Homo sapiens: one gene and its partners. The main gene of each other region encodes a partner of the protein of the gene in region 3 in a complex. Each region holds a gene or a part of one and is shown on either strand. Other genes may lie near its edges. The genes, in order: LAMTOR1, FNIP1, LAMTOR4 and LAMTOR3.

Region 1 (7,094 bases), on a different chromosome or scaffold from region 3:
AACCACCTGAGTAGCCCATGTAAATTTTCAGCAGCCCTGTTCCTGCTGGCCTGTGCTGATAATCACAACCCCTGAACTAATGTAAGACCAAACCAAGCTTCCTCATTGGTTTGGTCTTCCTCCTTGTCCTCTTTCAGTCCCCTGTTCTATCTACTGTAATATTTCTGGATTTGACCCTGCCTTGAGACCATCAGCTGCAAATCCTTGCTTGCTGTATCAGCAGTAAATGAGAAAAACAGACCTGCTGGGTATCTATCCAACCCATAAAGAGCAAGAGTGCCCTGAACAAAGCCAAGGATGGGCCCAGGGGGACATCCTGGCTAATGCTGACTCACCAACCTTCAGTGCCAGACTCCTCAATGCTCCCCTCCAGGCCTATCTCAGTTCCTCAGTCTTTCCTGCTGCAGGCCGCAGCTCCCCTGCCCACAACTCCACAACTCTCCTTGTAGAGGGCTACTTCCTCCTGCCCTGCTTAGGGAGGCCCAGCCTTTTCACCTTACTCTTCTTTCTCAAGGCTAGGTTGCCCAAGTGTCCTCAGGCAATTTGATCCAGTTCCCAACAGCAAGAGACAGAAGCTGTGGGCTTTGCCCCATCACCTCTATAAACTCCCAGACACCCTTCCTCCCTAAATACATAGGCTCAGTATTAAAGAGCTAAAAAGACAAAATGTTTGCCAAAGATAAAACTATGTATTTCTAAGGAAAGCTGGCTCCATAATGAGGCCCAAGTTAGCTTCCTATGTGTCTGTCCTCCCAGCTCCACTTCAGACAGATCTTCCTGCAGGACAGGGTAGTCTCTTCCCTATCAGGGGTTCTTCAAGAAGAAGGTTGGCTGATCACTTCTCAGCCTTCAGCTAAGATCAAGTGAACAACAAGGTTATTTTCTTGAAACCCAGACTTAAAGAAGAGGCCATGCTACCTACTTCAGAGCAGACAAACATCACCCCACTCCCAAAGTGCGAGTGGAGCATGGGTTAGGTTTGTCACATCAAGGTTTGTCTCTGCATTAGTGTAACCCAAGAGGCAGGGTTTCACTGTCTACCTTAGCACAGACATAGCAGCCTGCCCGTGACTGGCCACCTGGTCTAGGGGCATGGCTGAGACAGCTTGGCCCCATGGATAAAGTACATGGCCTAGCGTCAGAACACCTGGGCACTAGCACTTCTCAGCTTGGCCAAATCACTTAGCTTCTCTGAACTTCTTCCTCACCTTTCAATAGACATAACCCACACTAATATGACGGATGTCTGGCAAGAGTCAAATTAGATAACTGTGAAGGCCCTTTGTAAACTGTAACGTGTTGTATATTTTTTATTATGATAAAGAGACAGAGATGAGAGTCGGAGAGGGGCCTGCCCAAGAACTCAAAGAGGGACTGTGGGATGGTGGATGGTTATGGCCCTTGCTACATGAGGCCTCAAATCACCCAGCAGTGATTAAGCACCTTCTCTGGGTGTTAGGAACAGAAATGAGAGCCCCCCAAGGAGAAGGTAGAGATTCAGGAGAGCAGCAGGCCCAGCTCTCCCTTCCAAGTAGAAGCTTGTATCCTTTCTCATACGGCATTAATCCTTCTTGACTCATTCCCTGCAAGAGTCCATATTATGCTTTAAGGGACAATTTCCCACTAGGCTACAGCTCTCCCAGTAGGCAGGGTTATTGTTGTCTCTTTCTCAAAAAGGTGGAAGTGAAGTGAGAGGTATTAGGCACAACACATGCCTAACACAGGGCAAAGGAAATATGTGTTCATTGGGTGTATGGAGAATTGAGAACCAGAAGCCACCCTTGCTTCCCATACAAACGACATTTTCCTAGGCTTAAGCCCTTAATCCAAAATACGTTCACTGAAGAACGAACTACTTCCCAAGTACCAGTGATATAATCTATTTTTGTGACCATCTTCCCCATTAGACCGTGAGCTACCTGAAACCTTTCTACTCTCTCAGGTCTACTATATGTTCAAATGTAGAATCCGGGCTTAGAGACGATCAAAAAAGGAGAGTAGACAGCAACTTGAGACTTCATCCTTGAATGTCAGGCCAGGCAGGGCAGGGATTAGAGTGTGGGGAGAAGTGAGAATGCACTAAGAGGAAGAGGGAGAATTTAAAACTGTACAGGTCTCCCCAGCCTAACCCTTTCTCCAAAGGTATCAGATCTACAGCCAAATTCTCAGAATAGGCATGTCTCCAGCTAAAGGAACCCTCAGGCCCCAGGCAGACTGCACTGAGGCAAGCCAAACTCAGAACCAAATGAACTTCCCGCTCCATTTCTCTTTTCCCACAATCTAGCCAAAGCTAAATCCTCTTTGTTGCTTCCCAGACAATTTCCCACATGTCCCGATGTCCTCACTGTATCGATTAAATCCTTCATTGGCCAATTCAAAGGCCACCAACTTCCAGAGTCGTCCCCTGGCCCTAGACTAGCAGCGACCTTCCTTCTGCAACCCCAGGGACTAAGACGATACACGAATTCCTGATTCATCTCAGGACAGACTAACTCAGGGCCTCAGCTTACCCACCCCTAAAATGGATTCGCAAAGCCCACTAATACACAGAAGACACAGGAAGCTGGGGAAGGGAGTGTTTCCCGGGGACCTAGACTGAGGATCCTTGAATCTGAAAAGTTTTGAAGGTAGGAGCAAACGGAAGTGGTGGGAGCGAGCCGGACAGGCGGCTGCCTGCACACCCCGAGGCGGGGACTGTGTAGAAATCTGGGGCTTTAACAGGGGTAGGAGCCCGGCTTGGCGTCTCCTCTGTAATCTGTCCCCTCCAGGCCTCCGTATTCAGTGAGCCCTGCAGTCCGGCTGCCCGTCCTCCGCAGGTTTCTTTCTGGGCCCCATGCCCCAGTGTCTTAGCCCTCATTCCCGAGCCCCGCCTGCCGCGGCCGCACCTGGTCCGAGTCCTCGTTCTCGCTGCTGTAGCAGCACCCCATGGCCGGGGTCGGGCCGGGCGCTCAGGCCGCGCCGAGGAGGGACGGCGTCCGTGAGGAGCCCTTCCGGTCACATGACCCGCGGCGGCCTCCCGCAGGCAACCACCCGCCCCCACCCCCCGTACCCCCTGTCCCGGAGCCGCTTGGCCGCCTCAGTCAATACCCCGGCTTCCGGTCCCGCCCGCTAGCGCGTGATCGTTGTCAACCAATGGGAAGGCGTAACCGTACACGCAAGCACGTGATGCGGGGAAAGGGCGGGGCGGATCACATGACTTCATCTTTCCAGTCTCTAAACTGGCAGTAGTGGCCATCGTGAATTGTGTTATGCGTTCTCGTGGCCACTAGGCCACTTTTCTGGGCCATTGAGCGAACTCGTACCAAATGCCCTCGTATGCCCTTGTGATATACTCTTCTAAATGCCATGCGAGGGGCGACTGGGATCCAGGCCTGATGCTCCAGATCGTACGGTCTGGGTGCACACACACAGATGATCCAGATGACCAGTACCTAGTCGGGGAACACAGAGGGTGTATCGCCCAGCTGGGCTGGGGGTGAATACACAGAGGGTGTATTCTCCACCTGGGCTGGGGATCTGCGACTTACAGGAAGAAGGGACCTTATACTACCTTCACATGCTGACGCGCAGCGGAGATAAATCCTGGTAGAGGAGATAGAAGCCACCTCACTGACCTCTCTGCTTTCAGGCTTTTATCTTTAATTCTGCCTTTTTTAACAGCACCCATTGTAATCGAACGCACAAAGCTGACCATCAGTTCTCTTTTCCTAACCCCCGCTCCATGTCTTCCCTTGGGCCCTGAACACAGGTCCAAGTCCGTCCAAGATTGTATAGTGATCCATTTGTTGTTCATGAGCGTGTGATTGGGTGTTCACCAGCATGTATCAAATGTGCCACCCTCAAATCTTGTTTTGGCACATTACCCGTCTGACATAACAAGAGCCTGACACCTCTCCCACTGCATGTTCTGGGGTGAGGGGTGGAGGGGTCAGCAATGTGTTTCACTGGACATAGAGAAATAATGTAGTTTCCTGATTGATCTACTGGACTTTGTACATGCAGCCTGGTCTGCCTACTGTCTTTACTGTCTTCGAGACTCAGTACAATGTCCTCCTGATTACCTTCTCTGACTCCATTCTCTGGACATGCCCAGCTCCCTATGCTTAATCCTCATCCAGTGTTAATTCATGCATTTATTGAATCAACAAATATTTGCTGAGCGTCTACTATGTGCCACACATTGTTATATCTGGATATGCAGCAGTTCACAAAACAGCCAAAGTCCCTGTAGTCATGGAACATCCAATAGTGATCACACTATATTGTATTCTCTGTTCCTGGGTCAGTCTCACCTACCAAACTTGGGAGTTCCTGGAGCACAGTGACAGGTTCTGACTCTTCCCTGTAGCCCAAGGCATGGCCTTGCTTACAGAAAACTTGCATATCAATGAGCATGTTACAGTCACCCCATCACCTTGGCTCACCCCATGCCCCATCTTCTGATCCAAAGTATTGGAGAAGTCACCAGATCTCATACCTCTTATAACCCCTCAAATCAAGACCCTGAGGTTCTGTAAATCTTTTGAGGTTCCTGAAGGGTAGGAGGCAGCTCAAGCTCGTCCCTGGGGCTGGTAACTTGAACTGCAGGTCTCAGGTGACAGCAGCAGCCTCAGCATGAATAATTGAAAGCCATTCCAGCCTCCTACCTCAGGGTTATCCCCCGCAGCAGGCCCTGGACTCCCCGACCTGTCCTGTGCTCTGGTCCTCCAGCCCAGGTAAGCAGGGCCCTGGATTGTGGGTTCCCAAGCTCACCAGTTCAAGCCCACCGCATCACTCACCTATTCACACCCATCCATACACTCTTTCATTTTTACTCCCCGCCATCACCAGGGGCCTTGCAAGAAGGCCGGCAAGGAGGTCAGATCTGGATGAGGAGGAGAATGGTCCAGGACATGGGAGGAGAGGCCCATTCCCCATAGGTCCCTGGAGAGAAGAGCTGAGTAGAGGGAAAATGTGTGCTGTGTGTTATGTGTATGTACACATTTGTGAAGGGAATTCTGAGACAGCACAGGAGAAGAGGGGAATACAGCGGAGAGGAGATGGGGCTGGAGAATTATTAAAGAATCAAAGACTCCTCCCATCCTCAGGGAAGAGCAGGCAGAGGGAGAGTCCTGGGGTGGGAAAGAGGACATCTCACTCTAACACCCTATGGGGTATTTTGATTGCATTTTACTGAGGCAGGGCACAGTGATAGTGAAGGTGTTTTTGACTGCAAATCTATGCTCTTTTGCTACACAGCAGTGGTCAGAGGAGACCAGGCAGGCAGAGGGTAGGGGTGGGGGAAGATATCCCAGAGGTGAATTAGTGAAAGGGGTCCTGAAGAAGGGGTGACTTCAAGGATAAAGAGAAACAAGTCAGGGGAACAATGTGAAGATGGGACCAGGGGTTGGGACCGGGAAGAGGTGGTTTGGGGCTGGGTGCTGAAAGTAGACAGTATAGAGTCCTTGAAAGTACACAGGCTTGGAATCACACTAACCTGGATTCAAATCCCAGTTCTGCTCTGTGACTCTGGACAAAAGACTTAGCCTTTCTGAGCCGTGGTTTGTGAAATATAAGGATAATAATTGCTACTGGCAAAAGCTACACAAATAGGCAAATTGTGGGTATGGGATTCCCTCCCTACCTCCCTCCACCCCAGGGCCCAGGTAGGGACCATGTCCCCTGCCATTGCATTGGCCTTCCTGCCACTGGTGGTAACATTGCTGGTGCGGTACCGGCACTACTTCCGATTGCTGGTGCGCACGGTCTTGCTGCGAAGCCTCCGAGACTGCCTGTCAGGGCTGCGGATCGAGGAGCGGGCCTTCAGCTACGTGCTCACCCATGCCCTGCCCGGTGACCCTGGTCACATCCTCACCACCCTGGACCACTGGAGCAGCCGCTGCGAGTACTTGAGCCACATGGGGCCTGTCAAAGGTCAGTGTTCCCTAGCCTTCTGCTCCAAGAAGTACCCCCAAGACAGTGAAGGAATATTTGGGATCTGTTGCTGCTTAACTGGATGAATTGGGCAGGTTCTTGATCCTCTTTTAGGGCCTCTTTTTTTTCTCATCTGGAAATGAGGAGCTTGGACTAAGTCATTTATTCAGCAAACATTTATTGCCACCTCTTTTGTATTAGGAATGTGCTAGGTGCCAGGGAGAGGGGTAGAGGCCACAGAGATGAATGAGCCACAAATGCTGGCCTCAAAGGAACCATAATACACAGTGGAATAACCATCTCAGCAGATAACCCATAGCTTTGTAATTATCTGTCTCCACATCTTTCCTCTCCACCATGGAGGCTTCCACATACCATTTAGGGTAGCTGTCTGCCTGGATTTATCTCAATCCCAGCATAAGTGCTTTTAGGGTCTTATTTAAGAAATTCGGCTGTGTGGTGGCTGGTGCCTGTAATCCCAGCACTTTGAGAGGCCGAGGTGGGCAGATTGCTTGAGCTCAGGAGTTTGAGACCGGCTTGGGCAACATGGCAAAAACCCATCTCTACAAAAAATACAAAAATTACCCAGGCATGGTGGCACATGCCTGTGGTCCCAGCTACTTGGGAGGCTGAGGTGGGAGGATTGCTTGAGCCCAGGAGGCTGAGGCTGCAGTGAGCTGTGATTGTGCCACTGCACTCCAGCATGGGTGACAGAGCAAGAACCTGTCTCAAAAAAAAAAAAAAAAAGAAAAAGAAAAGAAAAGAAATTCACTGGCTGGGCATGGTGGCTCATGCCTGTAATCCCAGCACTTTGGGAGGCCAAAGCAGGAGGATCACTTGAGCCCAGGAGTTCGAGACTAGCCTGGGTAACAAAGCAAGACCCCCGTTTCTACAAAAAATTTAAAAATTAGCCGGGTGTGGTGGTGAGTAACTGTGGTTCCAGCTACTGGAAATGCTGAGGTGGGAGGATTGCCTGAGCCTGGGTGGTCAAGGCTGCAGTGAGCCGTGATCATGCTACTGCACTCCAGCCTGGGCAACACAGCAAGACTTGGTCTCAAAAATAAATAAATAAAAGTTCATCCAATTCCAAGATCAGAAATACATTTGATGAGCAATAAAAGGGGAATGAAACTACAAATTCTAACAGAGACCTTTCATAAATCTGAAAGATAGGGTGGTTG
Region 2 (7,025 bases), on a different chromosome or scaffold from region 3:
GAATCATGAAAGACTCACTTGCCATGCCAAAGCAATTTCAACTTACTTGGTAATTTGTGGGAATTATGGGAGTAGTTTAGAACAGTGGCATGGTGATATTTGAGCCAGTGTGTTAGCCAGAAGAGAAAATTTATCATAATAGTATCTATAGCTTATATTTATTTGAGACCTATTTATATTTGTTCCTTTAAAAAGTGTGAGGGCTTTGTAAAGTAAAAATAGAGGATTTTAAATGTGTATACTGACAACTTCAAAAATTGAATTAAGTTGAAATTAATGGCTTTGTATTCTCCTTTTTTTTTCTTTCTTTCTTGAGACAGGGTCTCACGCTATTGCACAGGCTGGAGTGTGGTGGTGCGATCACAGCTCACTGCAGCCTCAACTTCCTGGGCTCAGGTGATTCTTCCGCCTCAGCCTCTCAGGTAGCTGGGATTACAGGTGCGCGCCACCATGCCCAGCTAATTTTCTGTATTTTTTTGTAGAGACAAGGGTTTCGCCATGTTGCCCAGGCTGGTCTTGAACTCCTGGGCTCAAGTGATCAGCCTGCTTCCACCTCCCCAAATGCTGGGATTACATGTGTAAGCCACCATGCCCAGCCCTATTCTCCATAGTTTTGGCACTGAAATTACTGGTTTAATTTGAAGTATAGCATAAATATAGAAATGCTAATTTCTAGTCCTGCCCCCCTCACCTCCCCTGCTTTTAACATAATGGCTAGTCATGTTTAGAATGGATTCAAAAGTGAAAATGAACTGCATGGCTGAACTTGTTGCCCTTTCTTTTCCTTTTAGTAAGGATGAGTCTCTCTCTTCCTGCCCTTTCTGGCCTATCCTGAGTACCCAACCCTCTAGGGAATGGAAGGGGAAAATAGGCTTTTACAAACATGGGAGCTGGTGGGGTGGGGTGCTGGCTAGAGGAACAACAGTTAAAGTTCAGAGATATGACTTACTTTTTTATTTTATTTCTTTTTATTTTTTATTATTTTTATTTTTTTGAGACGGAGTCTTGCTCTTGTTGCCCAGGCTGGAGTGCAGTGGTGTCATCTCGGCTCAGTGCACCCTCTGCCTCCTGGGTTCAAGTAATTCTCCAGCCTCAGCCTCCCAAGTAGCTGGGACTACAGGTGCCCACGACACCACCTGGCTAGTTTTTGTATTTTTAGTAGGTACAGGGTTTTACCATCTTGGCCAGGCTGGTCTTGAACTCCTGGTCTCAAGTGATCCACCCATCTCGGCCTCTCAGAGTGCTGGAATTACAAGCGTGAGCCACTGTGCCCGGCCCCAGAGATATGATTTAAATCAGGAATGGTTAAGTGTGTGGTGTGACGACTATAGCTTTGCTCCATTTTACCACTACTCCTTTCCTCTCCTTGCAAGCCAGTGGATATTGTGCTTTGTCTTTTCTTGATTGGACACAGCTACAGAATCCTTGTGTACATAGTACTTCAGGCAGTACTTCTCTAACAAGGTAAAAATGCTCTGCATGGAGCCTGGGTTAGAGAATATTCTTGGGATATGTGAGTTTCAGAACTGACTCTTTGCTTGAGGTTTCTGAACCATAGCATTTGTTTAAAGAGGAAACCAGAAAACCCTTAAATTCACCTTTCTCTCTGGTTAAGATTATTCATCTCATCTTCCTCCCTTGAATAGTCACTCATCTGTTAAAGAACTAAGAGTGAGGCCAGGCATGGTGGCTCACGCCTGTAATCCCAGCACTTTGGGAGGCCAGGGCCAGTGGATTGCTTGAGCCCAGGAGCTCAAGACCACCCTAGGAAACATGGCAAAACTCTGTCTCTACAAAAAAAAAAAAATACAAAAAATTAGCCAGGCATGGTGGCACGCGCTTATAGTCCCAGCTACTCAGGAGGCTGAGGTAGCAGGATCACCTGAGCCTAGGAGGCTGAGGCTGCAGTGAACCATGATTGTACCACTGCACTCCAGCCAGGATTACAGTGTGAGACCCTGTCTCAAAAAAAAAAAAAACAAAAAAACGAGTAAAACCTAAACTATTACTCATACAGTAAAAGAAGTAGGTTTCTGATCATTAAAAATAGCTTACTTAGCTGTGTCAGTAAAGGACATGTCCAATAACTGATTTTTTCCATTACAGGAGACTTGTATGGCGCTATTGGCTCTCCCGTACGGTTAGCAAGGACTGTGGTAGTTGGCAAACGACAAGACATGGTCCAGAGGCTACTTTATTTTCTTACTTATTTTATAAGATGCTCTGAACTTCAAGAAACGCATCTTTTAGAAAATGGAGAAGATGAAGCCATCGTTATGCCAGGCACAGTAATTACTACCACTTTAGAGAAAGGTGAAATAGAAGAATCAGAGTATGTCCTTGTCACAATGCATAGAAACAAAAGCAGTTTGCTCTTTAAAGAGTCAGAAGAAATTAGAACTCCCAATTGTAACTGTAAATATTGCAGTCATCCACTCCTTGGGCAAAATGTAGAGAACATTTCACAACAAGAGAGAGAAGATATTCAAAACAGCTCTAAGGAGCTGCTAGGAATTTCAGATGAGTGCCAGATGATTTCTCCTTCTGACTGCCAAGAAGAAAATGCTGTTGATGTTAAACAGTACAGAGATAAATTAAGAACTTGCTTTGACGCCAAGTTAGAGACAGTTGTTTGCACAGGATCTGTTCCAGTAGACAAATGTGCATTGTCAGAGTCAGGCTTAGAGTCAACAGAGGAAACATGGCAGAGTGAGAAGTTGCTGGATTCAGACAGTCACACAGGCAAAGCAATGAGATCCACAGGAATGGTTGTGGAAAAAAAACCTCCAGATAAGATTGTGCCTGCTTCATTTTCTTGTGAGGCTGCCCAGACAAAGGTTACTTTCCTGATTGGGGATTCTATGTCACCTGATTCAGATACTGAGCTTCGAAGTCAGGCAGTGGTGGATCAGATTACCAGACATCACACCAAACCATTGAAGGAAGAAAGAGGGGCTATTGATCAGCATCAAGAAACTAAACAAACAACCAAGGACCAATCTGGAGAGTCTGATACACAGAACATGGTTTCTGAAGAGCCCTGTGAACTTCCCTGTTGGAATCATTCAGACCCAGAAAGCATGAGCTTATTCGACGAATATTTTAATGATGATTCAATCGAAACCAGGACTATTGATGATGTTCCATTTAAAACAAGTACAGATAGTAAAGACCATTGCTGTATGTTAGAGTTTTCAAAAATATTGTGTACAAAAAATAACAAGCAGAACAATGAATTTTGTAAATGTATAGAAACAGTTCCCCAAGATTCATGTAAAACCTGCTTTCCTCAGCAGGACCAAAGAGATACACTCTCCATTCTTGTCCCCCATGGGGATAAAGAGAGTTCAGATAAAAAAATTGCTGTAGGAACTGAATGGGACATTCCAAGAAATGAAAGTTCAGACAGTGCCCTTGGGGATAGTGAAAGTGAAGATACAGGTCATGATATGACTAGACAAGTTAGCAGTTATTATGGAGGAGAGCAAGAAGATTGGGCAGAAGAGGATGAGATACCTTTTCCTGGGTAAGTAGGAAGTTTTCACCTATAATGGGCCCTATATAAATATGTACCATTCTCTTTTTTAGCTGTTCTCTGAAGGTTAGTATAAAAGAGATCATTGTTCTGGATAGCTCTCTTGTTTTCATATTCTCTTAACTCATAAGAAGGAGTAAAGGCTAAGCTCCAGAAACACCCTGGAAAGGTTTTATGAAGACCTCAAATAAAAGTTAAAGGATCTGGTTGATAAGTATAAGATTTCTTACTGCTTAGAAGGTTTCAAGCCATTTAGGAGTGACTTATGCCCCCCAAAGGACATATGCTGAGCCTGGCAGTTAGGGAGCACTAATCCCTGAGATGTTAGAATAGCTGTTAGAAATAGATTTGGCCAAGACTAAGAGGAAAACAGAGAATGTATACTTTGGGTCAAGTATGCAAGGAGAATATTCATGCTTGAGAAACATTACATACCTAGCTTTGGACTTGTGAGGCATTTAATTGTTTTGTTTTAGATGATTGTTTTCATAATCTGATTGTATTAAGAATGTGCTACAAACACAAGGTACAATTCTCTTAAAGTCTCTTAGGAAAGATTGATCCTCACTTCATTACTCAGTTGCTCATCAGACCTTCTTCTCTGAATAAGAAGGAGTATTTTATTTTCTGATAGAGCACTTGAGCCAGTTTTTAAATAACGATGATTTTACTCTTGATTTTACTATTATTACCATTTTACTCTTAATTTTTACGATTGTTACCATTATATAAGGATGATTTTACACTTGATTTTAATACAGACTAGTGTAAAATATGGACAAGTAGAATTCACTTTTTTTTTTTTTTACTGGTTAAATATATTTATTACTAAATAAATGTCTTTTGGGGGCATTTTTCTTCCAGGTCAAAGTTAATCGAAGTGAGTGCTGTTCAGCCCAACATTGCCAACTTCGGGAGGTCCTTGCTGGGTGGCTACTGCTCATCTTATGTGCCTGACTTTGTTCTTCAAGGAATTGGGAGTGATGAGAGGTTCCGTCAGTGTCTGATGTCAGATTTATCTCATGCTGTGCAGGTGAGTGACCTTCACTGTTTTTGAGTTTATTTAGAAGAAACTCTGTTAAGCAGCAGAACCCAAAATTGCCTTATATTTTTGGTCATACTTTTTACAACACAATCATTGTTCTCTGAATCCATCATTTTATATTCAGTGCCCGTATCTTTGTATCTGTCACTGTGAAAGCAAATAAAGTTCCAGAAATCTATCCACATGGATATCTGAAATACAGAAAGTACTTTATGTATTCATGGATGTCCATCAACTAGGTTATTTATAGTATCAAAAATTTGCAAGTGCTTAAGTTTGAATGGAATTATTTTCTTAATTTCCTTTTCAGATTACTCATTGCTTACATATAGAAGTGGGGTTGGCTTTTGTGTATTGATCTTATATCCTTTGGTCTTTCTGAAACTCTTATTAGTCTATTCATTTTTCTGTATAGGTTCCCTAAGGTTTTCTACACACAGGCTCATGTTATCAGTGAACAGATAGTTTTAAATCTTTCTTAACAATCTGGATGCCTTTTGTCCCCGCTGCCCCCAACTTTTTTTTTTTTTTTTGACTCATTGTACTGGCTAGAATTTTCAATACAATGTTGCATGGAAGTGGTGACCATGGACATCGTTGCCTTATTCCTGATCTTAGGGGAAAGACATTGCATCTTTCATGATTAAGTATGTTGTTAGTTGTAAGGTTTTTGTGATGCCCTTTATTAGATGGAAGAAGTTCCCTTTTTATTTTTATTTTGTTTAACCGAATACTTCTTTTAGAGACAGGCAGTTCTCTTTTATTCCTAGTTTTGAGACGGTTTGGTTTTTTTTGTCCATCCCTTAATCATGAATGAGTGTGGGATTTTGTCATATGCTTTTTCTCAATGTCTATTGAGATTGTATTGTCGTGTCATTTTTCATCTTTAAACTATTAATGTCATGGATTTCATTAATTAATTTTTAGATGTTAAACCAACCATTGTATTCCTAGGAAGCAATTCCCACTCTGTCATGGTATATAATTTTTTTTATGTGTTGCTGGATTTGATTTACCAATATTTTATTATGGACATTGGAGTCTATATTCATGAGAAATATTGCTTTTTAGTTTTCTTGTGATGTCTTTGTCTAGCTCTGATATCAGGATAATATTGGCACATCCTCTATTTTCTGGAAGAGTTTCCAGAAGATTAGTACTACTTTTTTTCTCTAAACGTTTGGTAGAACTCACTAGTGAAACCATCTGCATCCAGGCTTTTAAGAATAAGAATATTTTAAATTGCTAATTTAATTTCTTCACCTTTTATACATTTAGATTTTCTATTTGTTTCTGAGTCCATTTTGGTAATTTTTGTCTTTTAGGAATTTATTAGTTGCATTTAAGTGGCCTAATTTACTAGAATCAAGTTGTTTATATTATACACTTACAATCCTTTTAGTTTTTATAAGGTTGCTAGTGATGTCCCCTCTTTTGTTCCTGAATTTTGTAATGTGTGTTTTTGTTTGTTTGTTTTTCAAATGGTGAGGGCTTCTCCAAAGAGAAGTTCATTCGTGGTTTCACTTAAATTGTATATATTTTTTGCCCATATACATCAAGGATTAGCAAGCTATGGACAGTGGGCCAAATTGTCCTGCTTTTTATAGATGAAGTTTTATTAGAACACAACCACAGTCATTCATTTATATGCTTCTGGCTATGTTCATGCCTAACAGCAGAGTTGAGTTATTGAGACAGAGACTTTTCAGCCCCCAAACCTAAAATATTTCCTGTTTGTTCTTATTTTATTTTATTTCATTTTTCTTGAGACAGAGTCTAGCTCTGTTACCCAGGCTGGAGTACAGTGGTGCCATCTCAGCTTACAGTAACTTCTGCCTCCCAGGTTCAAGTGATTCTCTTGCCTCAGCCTCTGGAGTAGCTGGGATTACAGGTGCCCACCACCACACCTGCCTAATTTTTGTATTTTTAGTAGAGATGAGGTTTCACCATGTTGGCCAGGTTGGTCTGGAACTCCGACCTCAGGTGATCCACCCACCTCAGCCTCCCAAAGTGCTGGGATTATAGGCGTGAGCCACCGCACCTGGCCAAATCTGACAAATTTCGATCTGTTGTATTTTCAGTTTCATTCATTTCAAAATGTTTTTACATTTTGCTTGTAATTTCTTTGACTTATGAGTTATTTAGAAGTATGCTGTTTAATTTACAAATATTTATGGAATTCTCAAAAGTTGTTTTGCTGTTGGTTTCTAATTTAATTCCATTATGGTTGGAGAACCTACTTTGTTCACCTCTTGTAAATTTATTGAGACTGTTTTATGGCACTTGAAAAGAATATATATTCTGCTTTTGTTGAAATGTTCTATAGCTATCAGGTCAAGTTAGATAACCTTTAGATAATAGTCTTAATTAAGTCTTTTATGTCCGTGCTGATTTTCAGTTTGTTTCTGCCATCAATTATTGAGAATGAAGTATTGAAGTCTTCAG
Region 3 (7,922 bases):
AGGAGTTTGAGACCAGCCTGGGCAACATAGCAAGGCCCCTGTCTCCACACATTTTTTTTTTTTTTTTAATGGCTGGGCGTGGTGGTGCTTGCCTGTAGTTCTAGTTACTTGGGATGCTGAGGCGGGAGGATTGCTTGGGCCCAGGAGTTCAAGGCTACAATGAGATGTGATCGTTACCACTGCACTCCAGCCTGAGTGACGGCGAGACTCTATCTTAAAAAAAAACAAACAAACAAAAAAACAGGACGGGGTGCTGTGGCTCACACCTGTAATCCCAGCACTTTGGGAGGCCGAGGTAGGCGGATCACGAGGTCAGGAGATCCAGACCATCCTGGCTAACATGGTGAAACCCCATCTCTACTAAAAATACAAAAAAGTAGCCGGGCATGGTGGCGGGCGCCTGTAGTCCCAGCTACTAGGGAGGCTGAGGCAGGAGAATGGCGTGAACCCGGGAGGCGGAGCTTGCAGTGAGGGGAGACTGCACCACTGCACTCCAGCCTGGGTGACAGAGTGAGACTCCGTCTCAAAAAAAACAAAAACAAAAACAAAAAAACAGGCCGGGTGCAGTGGCTTATGCCTGTAATCCCAGCACTTTGGGTGGGAGGCTGAGGCGGGCAAATCATGAGGTCAGGAGTTCGAGACCAGCCCGGCCAACATGGTGAAACCCTCTCTCTACTAAAAATACAAAAATTAGCTGGGCATGGTGGTGCACACCTGTAATCCTAGCTAATCAGGAGGCTGAGGCAGGAAAATCACTTGAACCCGGAAGACGGAGGTTGCAGTGAGCTGAGATCATGCCACTGCACTCCAGCCTGGGCCACAGAGCGAGACTCTGTCTCAAAAAACAAAAACAAAAAAAAACAAAAACAAAACTCTTCTCTCCTTGCTCCTCCTTCTTACCACCACTTGCCCAGTCTCATCTCTTTTTTTTTTTGTTTTTTTTGAGACGGAGTCTTGCTCTGTCGCCCAGGCTGGAGTACAGTGGTGTGATCTCGGCTAACTGCAACCTCCACCTTCCAGGTTCACGCCATTCTACTGCCTCAGCTTCCCGAGTAGCTGGGACTACAAGTGCCCGCCACCAGGCCTGGCTAATTTTGTTTTTGTATTTTTAGTACAGACGGGGTTTCACCGTGTTGGCCAGGATGGTCTCGATCTCCTGACCTCGTGATCCGCCCGCCTTGGCCTCCCAAAGTGCTAGAATTACAGGCATGAACCACCACGCCCAGCCCAGTCTCATCTCTTAATGACGCCTCCTTCTGCCCATCTTCACATCACTAACAACAATATTGCTCAACCACCTCACTGGGTCTTGTTTCTGTTTTAAAAAACCTTTCAAACTGTATTACCTTCAAGAATAAGTTCAAGTGTGTTAACCTGGCCTTGAAGATCCTTCACAATTACATCCTCCCTGACCATATCCTCCTCTCTTCCCTCAAACCTTCCCAAATCTTTTCAGCATAAACTTACCATCAGTTCAGATAGGTTAGTGCCACACACCTGCAAATAAGTCCTCCCCCACTGTAAATACTCTCCTTTAAGGTGGGCTGAATTCCTACCTCCCGGAAAGTTAGTTACCTTGTCATAACATGTTGAATTTTTAATATCCTGGATTCCCTCAATAGTCTTTACCACCTGTATTGTTTTCAACCCTTAACCTTAAGCTTTGTCTCTACCTAAGTCAAAAACATCTGGAGACTTAACACTATACAGTACTATGGAACAAAATACAAATGCCTCTTTAAGAAATACCAAATAAAGGCCAGACGTGGTGGCTCACGCCTGTAATCTAGAGACCTAACACCATACAGTACTATGGAACAAAATACAAATGCCTTTTTAAGAAATACCAAATAAAGGCCAGGCATGTTGGCTCACGCCTGTAATCCCAGCACTTTGGGAGGCTGAGGCAGGTGGATCACCTGAGGTCAGGAGTTTGAGACCAGCCTGGCTAACACGGTGAAACCCCGTTTCTACTAAAAATACAAAAAATTAGCAGAGCATGGTGGCACGTGCCTATAATCCCAGCTACTCGGGAGGCTGAGGCAGGAGAATCGCTTGAACCCCGGAGGCGGAGGTTGCAGTGAGCCGAGGTCGCACCACTGCACTCCAGCTTGGGCAACAAGAACGAAACTCAGTCTCAAAAACTATAAATAAATAAATCGCAGCCGTTAGGAGACTAAGATTCCACAGACTGATTACTGAAAGTAATTGCAAAAACTGCAAATACTTTTGTACCAACCTAATAGATGCCAGGCAGGAAACCAGATAAAAGCCGAGAAAAGAAGGGCCAATATTAGAAGGGGTTACCGGGCTGTGTGCACTAAGGGACCCCCTCCCTTTCCCAGAACGCACCGCCAGCACTGCACCTTCACTCAGTACCAGGTAGCCGAGCTGGTCTGGGATTCGCTCCAGCCCCTGGGTCAGCGCAGAAGTCTAGTGGGTAAAGATGCAAGTCGTGAGAAGCATGCTAGAGGGATGGACGGCCCGATACCCTTCACCTGCAAACCCAAGTCTCTGGGTTGACGATGGCCCCAGGTTTTCTCATTCCCCAGCCAGGTCCCTTCCCGGCCCCCTCCCCCCTACATGGTCCTCAATACTGATCTTCCCGAGCCTCCATCTGCCCCCACTCTCGCCCCCGGGCTCCCCTGGCCTTCCACATCCCACCTTTGCTACCCCAAGGGGCCTTTGCTGCCCCACTGGCCCCTGCCCCCAGACCCTCTCTTCACCTCCCTTCGTCTCCGCCCGACCTGCAGACTACCCGCAGCCCCAGAACACCCTCCCACAGACCCCTCCCCAGCATTCTCGTCGCCATCCCTCCCATTTCCATCCCCTCTTCCTCCCCGAGCGGATAGGAGGTGAGGGTGGAGCGCAGGCCCACCAGGGGGAAACCACACAGACTGGGGAGCAGAGACGCTGAACCCCCGGCGGGTCCTCTCGCGCATGCGTCCTCACTCACCATCGCAGTCTTCGGTGCTGGGGGAGCTCCCTACCAGATAGGTAGCTTCCGGCTTCAGGCCCCGGTCACGTGCTTGCAGCCGCTGCGCTCCTCCTTCTGCTTGCGCCACTGGCCTTTAGCCCCGCCTCTAGCATGAGGATTGGACAGTGGCCACGTCGTCAGACCCAACCAGCCAGTGCGAAGCGCTGTTTCCCGGAGGCGCACGTTGATTGGTGATATCCCCTCTTTAACACCCATCTCCCCGCCCCTCAGTGCCTGAGCGAGAGGAAGACGCGGGAGCGTCCGAGGAGGGGAGGATCTGGGAGGGGCGGGAGTAGGCCGGGGTTGACCGTTTGGTCCTGGGCGCACTGTCTGGAGCCAGAGTTCCGCCTGAGCCAGGATGCCCGCTGGTGTGACCCCCCCAAATGAATCCCTTCCCAGGTTTAAGACTGGACCCAAAAACTAGAGAATAAAAGGAAATAACGTGCAATGCATGTGAAAAACTATTCAAGGCTGGGCGCCGTGGCTCACGCCTGTAATCTCAGCGCTTTGCGAGGCCGAGGACGGATCATTTCAGGGCAAGAGTTCGAGACGAGCCTGAGCAACATAGCGAGACCCTCCCCAGTCCCCCCGCTCCAACCACCTCTACAAAAAAATAAGAAAATAAGCCGGGCATGGTGCCTCACGCCAGTAATTCCAGCTACTAGGGAGGCTGATGGAGGAGAATCTCTTGAGCTCAGCAGTTGCAGAGTGCAGTGAGCTATTATGGTGCCACTGCACTCCAGCCTGGGTGCCCTTCCTCTAAAAAAAAAAGAAAAGAAAAGGAAAAAAAAGGTACTCAAATGCTACTTTTTTTTTTTTTTGAGTCGGAGTCTCACTCGGTCGCCCAGGTTGCAGTGCAATGGCGCGATCTCTGGCTCAATACAACTTCCGCCTCCCGTGTTCAAGCAATTCTCCTGCCTCAGCCTCGCGAGTAGCTGGGATTACAGGCGCCCACCACCACGCCCGGCTATTTTTGTGTTTTTAGTAGAGATAGGGTTTCACCATATTGGCCAGGCTGGTCTCAAACTCCTGACCTCGTGATCCGCCCGCCTCGGCCTCCCAAAGTGCTGGGATTACAGGCTTGAGCCACCGCGTCCGGCCCTCAAATGCTACTTTTGTGCCTACTCAAGACAGCTCTTTGTTGAAGACAAGAATTTGTTCCCGAAGTGGTTTTTTTGTCCCCAGATTCAGTCCGGGACAATGTGGTGGTAAATAGAATCCCCAGCTAGCCAATGCAGCTGCAATACTGAATATTCATTCCCTACAGGAAAAAATTAGAAACAGTACCTTGGAATGATACACACACACACACACACACACACACACACACACATCACACAATATATGTAAACATTAGAAATTTTTGTTTTAAATAATTTCTAAACCTGTTGCCATATTAATGTGGTGGAGGCTGTGTTAGTGAAATAATATGAAGAATGATTCTAGAAGCCTGGGCAACATAGCAAGACCCCATCTCTAAAAATTTAAAAATTAACCAGGCATGATACTGCACATGTAGTCCCAGCTACCCGGGAGGCTGAGGTGGGAGAATCGCTTGAGCCCAGGAGGTTGAGGCTGCAGTGAGCCATGATCATGCTACTGCACTCAAGACTGGGTAAAAGAGCAAGATTGTCTCAAAAAGCAACAAAAAAATCTGAATATAATAACAATTGTTAAAGTCTGGGTGTCTTTTAAGACTTGTTAGAAACAGCAATTTCAAGGCTGGGCGTGGTAGCTCACACCTGTAATCCCAGCACTTTGGGAGACCAAGGCGGGTGGATCACCTGAAGTCAGGAGTTCGAGACCTGCCTGGCCAACATGGTGAAACCTCATCACTACTAAAAATACAAAACAAACAAACAAAAAAAAAAAAAACTAGGTGGGTGTGGTGGTGCATGCCTGTAATCCCAGCTACTGGGGAGGCTGAGGCAGGAGAATCCTTGAATCCAGGAGGCGAAGGTTGCAATGAGCTGAGATTGTGCCATTGCACTCCAACCTGGGCAACAAGAATGAAACTCCGTCTCAAAAGAAAAAAAAAAGATTTTGATGTAATAAATTATGGTGGCAGTATTCTTGATATTTAACCATCTTTGTGTTTCTGGAATAAAATCTGCTGGAACAAATTATACTACCCATTTGTTTTACTGCTTTATTTAGAATTTTTAAAATCTATTATGATAAATGAGATTGGGCTGTAGTTTCTTTTTGGTATATTCTTTATCTGCTTTTGGTAGAAAGAGCAGGTTGCCAGATAAAATGAATCAGAGAGTTTCCTATCTTTTTTATCTATGGTCTGCAAATCAAACTGGTTGGACCAACTCACACTCCTCTAGCAATGTGTCAGAGTTCCCAGTTATCTCCAGCTCCATTAACACATGGTATTGCCACACTTTTTGTTTTTTGTTTTTTTTTTGAGACAGTCTTGTTCTGTTGCCCAGGCTGGAGTGCAGTGGCGCAATCTCAGCTCACTGCAACCTCCACCTCCTGGTTCCCGGGTTCAAGCAATTCTTCTGCCTCAGCCTCCCGAGTAGCTGGGACTACAGGAGCGCACCACCACACCCAGCTAATTTTTGTATTTTTAGTAGAGATGGGTTTCACCATGTTGGCCAGGATAGTCTTGATCTCTTGACCTCGTGATCTGCCTGCATCAGCCTCCCAAAGTGTTGGGATTACAGGCCTGAGCCACCATGCCCAGCCAGTATTGCCACACTTTTAGGGTAAAGTTTTTGGATATGCGATGGCTTCTCATTGTAGTTTTTATTTGCATTTACCTAAATATTAATGAGGTTGATCACATTTTCAGACAGGTTTGGCTTTTGGGATATCATCTTTTGTGAAGTATCAGTTCAACTTTTTTTTTTTTTTGAGACAGAGTCTTGCTATGTTGCCCAGGCTGGAGTGCAATGGTGCGCTCTTGGCTCACTGCAACCTCCGCCTCCTGGATTCAAGCAATTCCCTTGCCTCAGCCTCCCAAGTAGCTGGGACTACAGGGGCACGTTGCCATCCCGGCTTTTTTTTTTGTATTTTTAGTAGAGACGGGGTTTCACCGTGTTGCCCAGGCTGGTCTTGAACTCCTGAGCTCAGAGCAATCCACCTGCCTCGGCCTCCCAAAGTGCTACGATTACAGGCATGAGCCACTGCAACTGGCTTATTTATTTATTTTTTTTTTGAGATAGTCTTCCTCTGTTGCCCAGGCTAGAGAGCGGTGGTGCGATCTCGGCCCACTGCAACCTCCACCTCCCAGGTTCAAGCAATCCTCCTGCCTCAGCCTCCCGAGTAGCTGGGATTACAGGCACGCACCACCAGGCACGACTAATTTTTTTGGGTTTTTAGTAGAAAGGGGGTTTCACCATGTTGACCATGTTGGCCAGGCTGGTCTCAAACTCCTGACCTTAAGTGATCTACCCACCTCGGCCTCCCAAAGTGCTGGGATTACAGGCATGAGCCACCATGCCGGCCCAGTTCAACTCTTTTCTCATTTTTCTATTGAGTTTGTCTCTCTCTTTTTTTTTTTTTTTTTTTCCCGCCCAGGCTGGCTAGAGTGCAGTGGCGTGATCTCAGCTCACTGCAAACTCCTCCTCCCGGGTTCACATCATTCTCCTGCCTCAGCCTCCCGAGTAGTTGGGACTACAGGCGTCTGCCACCACGCCCGGCTAATTTTTTAGCTCAGGAGTTTGAGACCAGCCTGGCCAACGTGGCCTGTTGTGGGAAGTCAGGGACCCCAAACGGAGGGATTGGCTGAAGCCATGGCAGAAGAACGTGGATTGTGAAGATTTCATGGACATTTATTAGTTCCCCAAATTAATACTTTTATAATTTCTTACGCCTGTCTTTACTGCAATCTCTGAATGTAAATTGTGAAGATTTCATGGACGCTTATCACTTCCCCAATCAATACCCTTGTGATTTCCTATGCCTGTCTTTAATCTCTTAATCCCGTCATTTTGGTAAGCTGAGGAGGATGTATGTCACCTCAGGACCCTGTGATGATTGTGTTAACACAAATTGTTTGTAGAGGATGTGTGTTTGAACAATATGAAATCTGGGCACCTTGAAAAAAGAACAGGATAACAGCAATGTTCAGGGAACAAGAGAGATAACCTTAAACTCTGACTGCCGGTGAGCCGGGTGGAACAGTGCCATATTTCTCTTCTTTCAAAAGCAAATGGGAGAAATATTGCTGAATTCTTTTTCTCAGCAAGGAGCATCCCTGAGAAAGAGAGTGTGTCCCTGAGGGTAGGCCTCTGAAATGGCCGCTTTGTGGGGCGGCCGTCTTTCATGGTCGAAGCTGTAGGGATGAAATAAGCCCCAGTCTCCCGTAGCGCTCCCAGGCTTATTAGGACGAAGAAATTCCCGCCTAATAAATTTTGGTCAGACCAGTTGTCTGCTCAAACCTGTCTCCTGATAAGATGTTATCAATGACAATGCGTGCCCGAAACTTCATTAGCAATTTTAATTTGTCCCGTCTTGTGGTCCTGTGATCTCGCCCTGCCTCCATTTACCTTGTGATATCTTATTACCTTGTGAAGCATGTGATCTCTGTGACCCACACCCTATTCGTACACTCCCTCCCCTTTTGAAAAAATCACTAATAAAAACTTGCTGGTTTTTATTAGTCATCACGGAACCTGCCGACATGTGATGTCTTCCCTGGACACCCAGCTTTAAAATTTCTCTTTTTTGTACTCTGTCCCTTTATTTCTCAGACCGGCCGACTCTTAGGGAATATAGAAAAGAAGCTATGTGAAATATTGGGGGTGAATTTCCCCCGATAGCGGCCAAATCCTGTCTCTACTAAAAATTCAAAAATTGGCTGCACATATTGGCAGGCACCTGTAATCCCAGCTACTCGGGAGGCTCAGGCCTTGAACCTGGGAGACAGAGGTTGCAGTGAGCCAAGATCGCACTACTGCACTCCAGCCCGGATGATAGAGCGAGACTCAGT
Region 4 (6,617 bases), on a different chromosome or scaffold from region 3:
ATCCATTTAATTATCAACTATTTATTAAGTCCTTACAATGTAATTGATATTCTGTTGGGCTTTAGAGATAAAAAGATGAAGATATGGTTTCACCTTAAAAACTTTCCAGGCCAAATGGTATTAATGTCTCTAAGAGATCATCACTAATTCTGTTTTATGGAAATATTCACTGAAATATAAAGTTCCTTTCTGTTTCATAATATAATACCATAATGTTGGGCTAAAACATTGATGATTTTAAAGTTTTTGAAAGATTAAGACATTTCAGTTTAGTTATACTACCTTTTCATAATGCAACATATTATTTGGCTCTTATTTTCTTTTTAGGTGGTTCAATTTAATCGTTTACCTTTGGTGGTGAGTTTCATAGCCAGCAGCAGTGCCAATACAGGTGTGTTTAATGACCTTAAATATCACTTTAATCCTTAATTTTAAAAAATTAATTTAATTACCATACCTTAATTTAAGAGGAATAGTAGATTTAGAGCCAAAAATCTTGAACTTGTGGCCCAGTTTCACTGTCTTTTTTCCATGTCTTGGGAAAAGTGATTTCTCTGAATCCTGGTTTCCATATCTGTATAATGGAGATAATATATGCTTTCTCCATCTTACAATGTTATTTTCTAGTTCAAATGAGACAGTGTATGGGTAAGTGATTTTTTTTTTTTTTTTTTGGAGACAGGAAAATTAAATGTTATCTGAGTGCTACATCTTGCTCCCATTACAGCAGTTTAAGAAAACAAGGTGAAGATAACCCAACAAAACGCATTAAAATGATCGATGAGTTACAGACCAATCTATTAAATTAGAATTTTTTAAATTTTACCTAATGGGGAAAATGAATGTGATTGAGAATTTAAAGAGCATGAATAGGATGAACATAGTCTCACTCTTCTTGAGAACTGAAGAATTTGAGAACAAATGCTAGGAAGCTGTACCCTTTATAGAGAATAGTAAAATTCCATTGTATCCAATACCTTCACTGGATATTTATGTGTAAAATAATGACTATTCACTTGGTTGTAATTTTTTTACTTCATTTTATATAAAGTAGGATTTTTATTAAAAGGTCTGTCTCCTTTAGATTTGATTGCTGTTGAGAATTGTAATATATTTTTTTCTATTTGTTTTTTCTTCCAAACTGAGCAAGTTCTTCTAGCTATGTCACTGAAGCCTGTTCTTAGATACCTCATCTTTAGAATGAGAGGTTTAGATTTGATGATCTATTAGATCTCTTCCATTTCAAAACATTTTAGGAATCTGTAAAATACTGTATGTAAAAACACTTTCTGAATTATATAGGATAGTAATGGTGTTAAGATTTTAAGTATATTTAGGAAATATACTAAATCTGAGTTTTGATAAATCACCTATCATCACATACTAAGTCACCAGTTGTTATATACTATGATAATGTACAGAACAATATTTTAGTACTTGGACCCTTTCCTTGAGAGTTCAGATGCTTTTTATATTCTATAAGACAGAGAAAGATCTTTATTTGTTTGAACATAAAACAGGCTCTGTTTGAGGCAGATAGCCTTTCACTCTAGTAAACTAAGGAGAAGCAAGATATGCTTATTTCTAGATGTTTATCTCCCAGGTTCATCATTGAACTCCAGTGTGTTTTGTACTCTACCATTTATTTTTAAAATATTTTTTCATTTGAAATATTTATTTATGTCTTAGCTTTGTCAAATTTATAAAAATAAATTTCTGATTTTCTTTGTTCAATATAGAAGCACCTATCTTTTGATATAATCTGTTAAAATTTGCTTAGAGACAAAAGTATGCTTTATTTAGTAAAAATCATATGTATTATTTCTGAGTCAAGGCAAATTTTGAAGCAGTAAGGTATAAATTAAGATTTTCCTTTCAAAACTCTTAACAAATTATAGTGCATATAATTTATTCTGTATTTCCTAATATATAAGTATTTTTCACTCATTCACTTTAGTAATAGATGCTGAAAATAAACTTATTAATGACTACAAAGTTTTTGGTTGCTTTATTTAGGGTTATAGTACAGGTTGAACATCCCTAATCCAAAAATTTGAAATCCAAAACATTCTAAAGTCTGAAACTTTCTGAGCACTAATATGGCATTCAAAGAAAATGCTCACTGGAGCATTTCATATTTGAGATTTTTGGGTTAGGGATGCTCAAATAGTAAGTATTGTACAAATATTCCAGAATTCAAAACACTTCTGATACCCAGCATTTTGGATAAGGGATATTCAACCTGTATTTTGTTTCAGTCATGGGAAATAAACTATGTTCTGATTTACTTTTGGTAACTATGTATTTTGGACATAAGGAAATCTGAGTTTCAGGCTTTGAGGAACATTTTTCTAACATGTAATTTTCTTAATCTCTTTATTTTAGGACTAATTGTCAGCCTAGAAAAGGAACTTGCTCCATTGTTTGAAGAACTGAGACAAGTTGTGGAAGTTTCTTAATCTGACAGTGGTTTCAGTGTGTACCTTATCTTCATTATAACAACACAATATCAATCCAGCAATCTTTAGACTACAATAATACTTTTATCCATGTGCTCAAGAAAGGGCCCCTTTTTCCAACTTATACTAAAGAGCTAGCATATAGATGTAATTTATAGATAGATCAGTTGCTATATTTTCTGGTGTAGGGTCTTTCTTATTTAGTGAGATCTAGGGATACCACAGAAATGGTTCAGTCTATCACAGCTCCCATGGAGTTAGTCTGGTCACCAGATATGGATGAGAGATTCTATTCAGTGGATCAGAATCAAACTGGTACATTGATCCACTTGAGCCGTTAAGTGCTGCCAATTGTACAATATGCCCAGGCTTGCAGAATAAAGCCAACTTTTTATTGTGAATAATAATAAGGACATATTTTTCTTCAGATTATGTTTTATTTCTTTGCATTGAGTGAGGAACATAAAATGGCTTGGTAAAAGTAATAAAATCAGTACAATCACTAACTTTCCTTTGTACATATTATTTTGCAGTATAGATGAATATTACTAATCAGTTTGATTATTCTCAGAGGGTGCTGCTCTTTAATGAAAATGAAAATTATAGCTAATGTTTTTTCCTCAAACTCTGCTTTCTGTAACCAATCAGTGTTTTAATGTTTGTGTGTTCTTCATAAAATTTAAATACAATTCGTTATTCTGTTTCCAATGTTAGTATGTATGTAAACATGATAGTACAGCCATTTTTTTCATATGTGAGTAAAAATAAAATAGTATTTTTAAAAATATAGTTTGAGCACTGTATAGGTCCTTTTTTTGTTCAGACTTTTTCCAAAAATCTAAACATAATTAATATACTCTTTCAGCCACATGAATAAATAATGAGTGTTTCTTGTAGGTATTGGTTTGGAGATTGTTTTACGGTAGTATGAACTGTTAACTGGAAAAGAAACCTGAGATTGCAGTCAGCCAAGATTGTGCCACTGCACCCCAGCCTGGGCAACAGAGACTCCGTCTCAAAAACAAAAAAGAAAAGAAACCAAGAAACCTCAGGCATGAACCTAATTTAATCTCCATGAAAGAGGTACTACAGTTCTAGAATATACCCTTTATGTTCAGGAATGCAGTCTATCATTCAGAGTTAATTTCTTTCTAGGCTCTTTGACAATCAGTTTTTCCCTGGATCAGTTCAGTACATATGCATTGAGCACCTGTGTGCCAGTCAGCCGAGCTATCACATTGCACAATTCTAAGAAGCACCATTCATGTCTCATCATATTTCTATGCTCTGGGAGTTGCCTTTCACATAGAATATGTGTGATTGTTATCCCTAGAATTGTGCAGTGAGGCAATTGGCTAGGTGCTGTGCTGCTTTTTCTTTCTTTCTTTTTTTTTTTAAGAGACAGAGTCTTGCTGTGTTGCCCAGTCTGGAGTGCAGTGGTGGCATGATCTTGCCTCACTGTAACCTCTGCCTCCTGGGTTCAAGCTGTTCTCATGCCCCATTCTCCCTTGTAGCTGGGATTACAGGCTTACACCATCGCACTTGGCAAATTTGTGTATTTTTAGTAGAGACAGGAATTCACCATGTTGGCCAGGCTGGTCTTGAACTCCTGACTTAAAGTGATCCACCTGCTTTGGCCTCCCAAAATGCTAGGATTATAGGTGTGAGCCACTGCACCGGGCCATGTGCTACTTTTTCTTCCTTCCATCCTTCCTCCCTTCTTCAGTGTAAATATGAGATTAATTTGTGATACCTTACTTTAAAGAACTTAGAGTTCAGTAAAGGAAGCAGGTATAGAAAGTGCTATGATAAAGCTATACATAGGATGGTATAGAACCACAGACTAGGGGCACTTAAAATGGGCAAGAAAATAGCCTTTGTAAATAAAATAGAGGCAAGAGATATAATGCTTTACCTGCAAAGAGCTATAAATACAGCCATGTACCATATAATGATGTTTCAGTTAGTGAAGGACCACATACGAGGGTGGTCAGAACAGCAGGCTATACCATATAGCCTAGGTGTGTAGTAGGCTATACCATATAGCCTAGGTGTGTAGTAGTAGGCTATACCATATAGCCTAGGTGTGTAGTAGTAGGCGATACCATATAGCCTAGGTGTGTAGTAGTAGGCTATACCATATAGCCTAGGTGTATAGTAGTAGGCTATACCATATAGCCTAGGTGTGTAGTAGGCTATACCATATAGCCTAGGTATGTAGTAGTAGGCTATACCATATAGCCTAGGTGTGTAGTAGTAGGCTATACCATCTGGGGTTCCTGTCAGTACAGTATGATGTTCACATAATGATGAAATCACCTAACAAAGCATGTCTCGAAATGTATCCACATTGTTACGTAACACATGACTGTAGTTAATTGTTACAATTGAAATACTAGATGTACTCATTGAAATCCAGAATTCCCATTATCTGGATTATTTAATATCGTTCAGGAAATTTTTGCCAGTGCAATGGTGCATGAAACAATGTCTTTTAGAAATGAGGTGGCCAGATTTCTATTTGCAGATAATAATTGTATATCTAAAAATCCTAGAAAAAGAAATGATAACAAATGGAGCTACTTAACCTTTACATGTTGAATGCTGCCACTGTTAAAATTTCTGAGGGGGTATAATAGATAAACTATCCCATAGTTCATCTGGAAAAATAAGGTGGTGAAAATTGCTAAGAAATTTTTGAAAGGGTAATGTAAACCTAGATTAACTGTTTTTGAAAGGTAGTACAGAACTGAATGCACAACTAGATATCAATGGTATGTACTCACCCAGAAAAAAGACTTCAGTACATACATGTGAGGGCTTAAAACATTGTTATAAAGACGGGATCACAATGGGAAAAGGATTATTCAATAAGTAGGGCAGGCATTCTCTATGCCTGCTAGGGAAGTGTGACTTGTTATACTCTTTATGTACAGCAATTGGCAGTCTGTGAAACTTTTAAATTCATATACATAACCTTTTGCCCTGCAATTCCACTTCTAGAAATTTATCCTACCAAACAAAGCACATAGATGTGCAAAAGTATGTATTTACAAGTATATTCTTTGCAACTTGGTAATGTCAAAGAATTGGAAGCAACCTAAATATCTGCCATAGGTAGGATAACCATATGCTTTGGCTTTTTGAACACTACCAGTTTATACCTGCTGTTCTTGGATAATTATTAATAGTGCTTTCATTCTCAATGTCTCACTTTAGATAATAAATTACAGAGGATTGGTGAAACTAATTTGCCCAATGGAAAAAGGAATGAAGAAGTGCTTTAGGTACTGAGATGAAAAGATCTCTAAGGCATAATAATGTTTATTGAGAAAAGCATGGTGTCAAACTGTATGGCATGCTACAATTGATGTATAAGAAGAAAAAATGTGTATGTATTCCTATTTGTTTGTATATGGTAGACTGTCTCTGAAGACATATATGGAAGAACCTGATCACATTGGTAGTCTCCAAGGAGCAGAACTAGATACCTGGGGGATAAGGATCCCAGGAGTGAGCCTTTTCATTGTAAACTTCATTGTACTTTGAGTTTTTAACTGTTCAAAAATAATAAAATTAGAAATAAAATATTTCAACAAACAATAAAATGGGATATTTGGGGAAGAAAGTTGTCTCAGGGCTCTCCAAAGAAGCAGAACCGGTTGGACATATGTGTATTTATTTCAAGGAAATGGCTTATACTATTGCGGGGACTGGCAAGTCTAACATCTGTTGGACGGGCCAGAAGACTGAAAAGTCTCAGGTAGGAGCTGAGGCTGCAGTTTCAGAGCAGAAGTTCGTCCTCTTGGAAACTTCAGTTTTGCTCTTAAAGCCTTTCAGTTGATTGGATGAGTCTCACCCACATTATGGAGGATTATCTCTTTTACTTAAATTTAAGGGATTATAAATGTTAAGTACATCTCCAGAATACATCCACAGCAGTACCTGGATTCATGTTTTAATAACTAGGCAATGTGTCCTAGCCAAGTTGATGCATAAAACTAACGTTCACAGTCCATTCCTAGTCAGCTTGGCACCTGTATGCATCTTTTTTGTTGTTTTTTGTTTTGTGAGACAGAGTCTCACTCTGTCACTTAGGCTTGAGTGCTGTGGCCTGATCTCAGCTCACTGCAACCTCTGCCTCCTGGGTTAAAGCGA

The links.
Region 1: LAMTOR4 (region 3) and LAMTOR1 share a complex: the UniProt entries of both Homo sapiens proteins name them as parts of the ragulator complex.
Region 2: LAMTOR4 (region 3) and FNIP1 share a complex: the UniProt entries of both Homo sapiens proteins name them as parts of the lysosomal folliculin complex.
Region 4: LAMTOR4 (region 3) and LAMTOR3 share a complex: the UniProt entries of both Homo sapiens proteins name them as parts of the ragulator complex.

The regions. Positions count from the first base shown.
Region 1 is NC_000011.10:72,100,298-72,107,391, forward strand, and holds the start of LAMTOR1 (ragulator complex protein LAMTOR1), read right to left. Parts: upstream 3,001-7,094; 5' UTR 2,928-3,000; coding exon 2,886-2,927; intron 1-2,885. Other genes in the region: LRTOMT (transmembrane O-methyltransferase), read left to right, coding at 4,667-4,715, 5,639-5,913; TOMT (transmembrane O-methyltransferase), read left to right, coding at 5,655-5,913; ANAPC15 (anaphase-promoting complex subunit 15), read right to left, coding at 7,054-7,094. UniProt on the Homo sapiens protein: Key component of the Ragulator complex, a multiprotein complex involved in amino acid sensing and activation of mTORC1, a signaling complex promoting cell growth in response to growth factors, energy levels, and amino acids.
Region 2 is NC_000005.10:131,668,006-131,675,030, reverse strand, and holds part of FNIP1 (folliculin-interacting protein 1), read left to right. Parts: intron 1-2,106; coding exon 2,107-3,526; intron 3,527-4,399; coding exon 4,400-4,568; intron 4,569-7,025. UniProt on the Homo sapiens protein: Binding partner of the GTPase-activating protein FLCN: involved in the cellular response to amino acid availability by regulating the non-canonical mTORC1 signaling cascade controlling the MiT/TFE factors TFEB and TFE3.
Region 3 is NC_000007.14:100,144,010-100,151,931, reverse strand, and holds the start of LAMTOR4 (ragulator complex protein LAMTOR4), read right to left. Parts: upstream 3,015-7,922; 5' UTR 2,960-3,014; coding exon 2,957-2,959; coding exon of another isoform or gene 2,879-2,956; intron 2,434-2,878; coding exon 2,353-2,433; intron 1-2,352. UniProt on the Homo sapiens protein: As part of the Ragulator complex it is involved in amino acid sensing and activation of mTORC1, a signaling complex promoting cell growth in response to growth factors, energy levels, and amino acids.
Region 4 is NC_000004.12:99,877,836-99,884,452, reverse strand, and holds the end of LAMTOR3 (ragulator complex protein LAMTOR3), read left to right. Parts: intron 1-327; coding exon 328-391; intron 392-2,385; coding exon 2,386-2,459; 3' UTR 2,460-6,117; downstream 6,118-6,617. UniProt on the Homo sapiens protein: As part of the Ragulator complex it is involved in amino acid sensing and activation of mTORC1, a signaling complex promoting cell growth in response to growth factors, energy levels, and amino acids.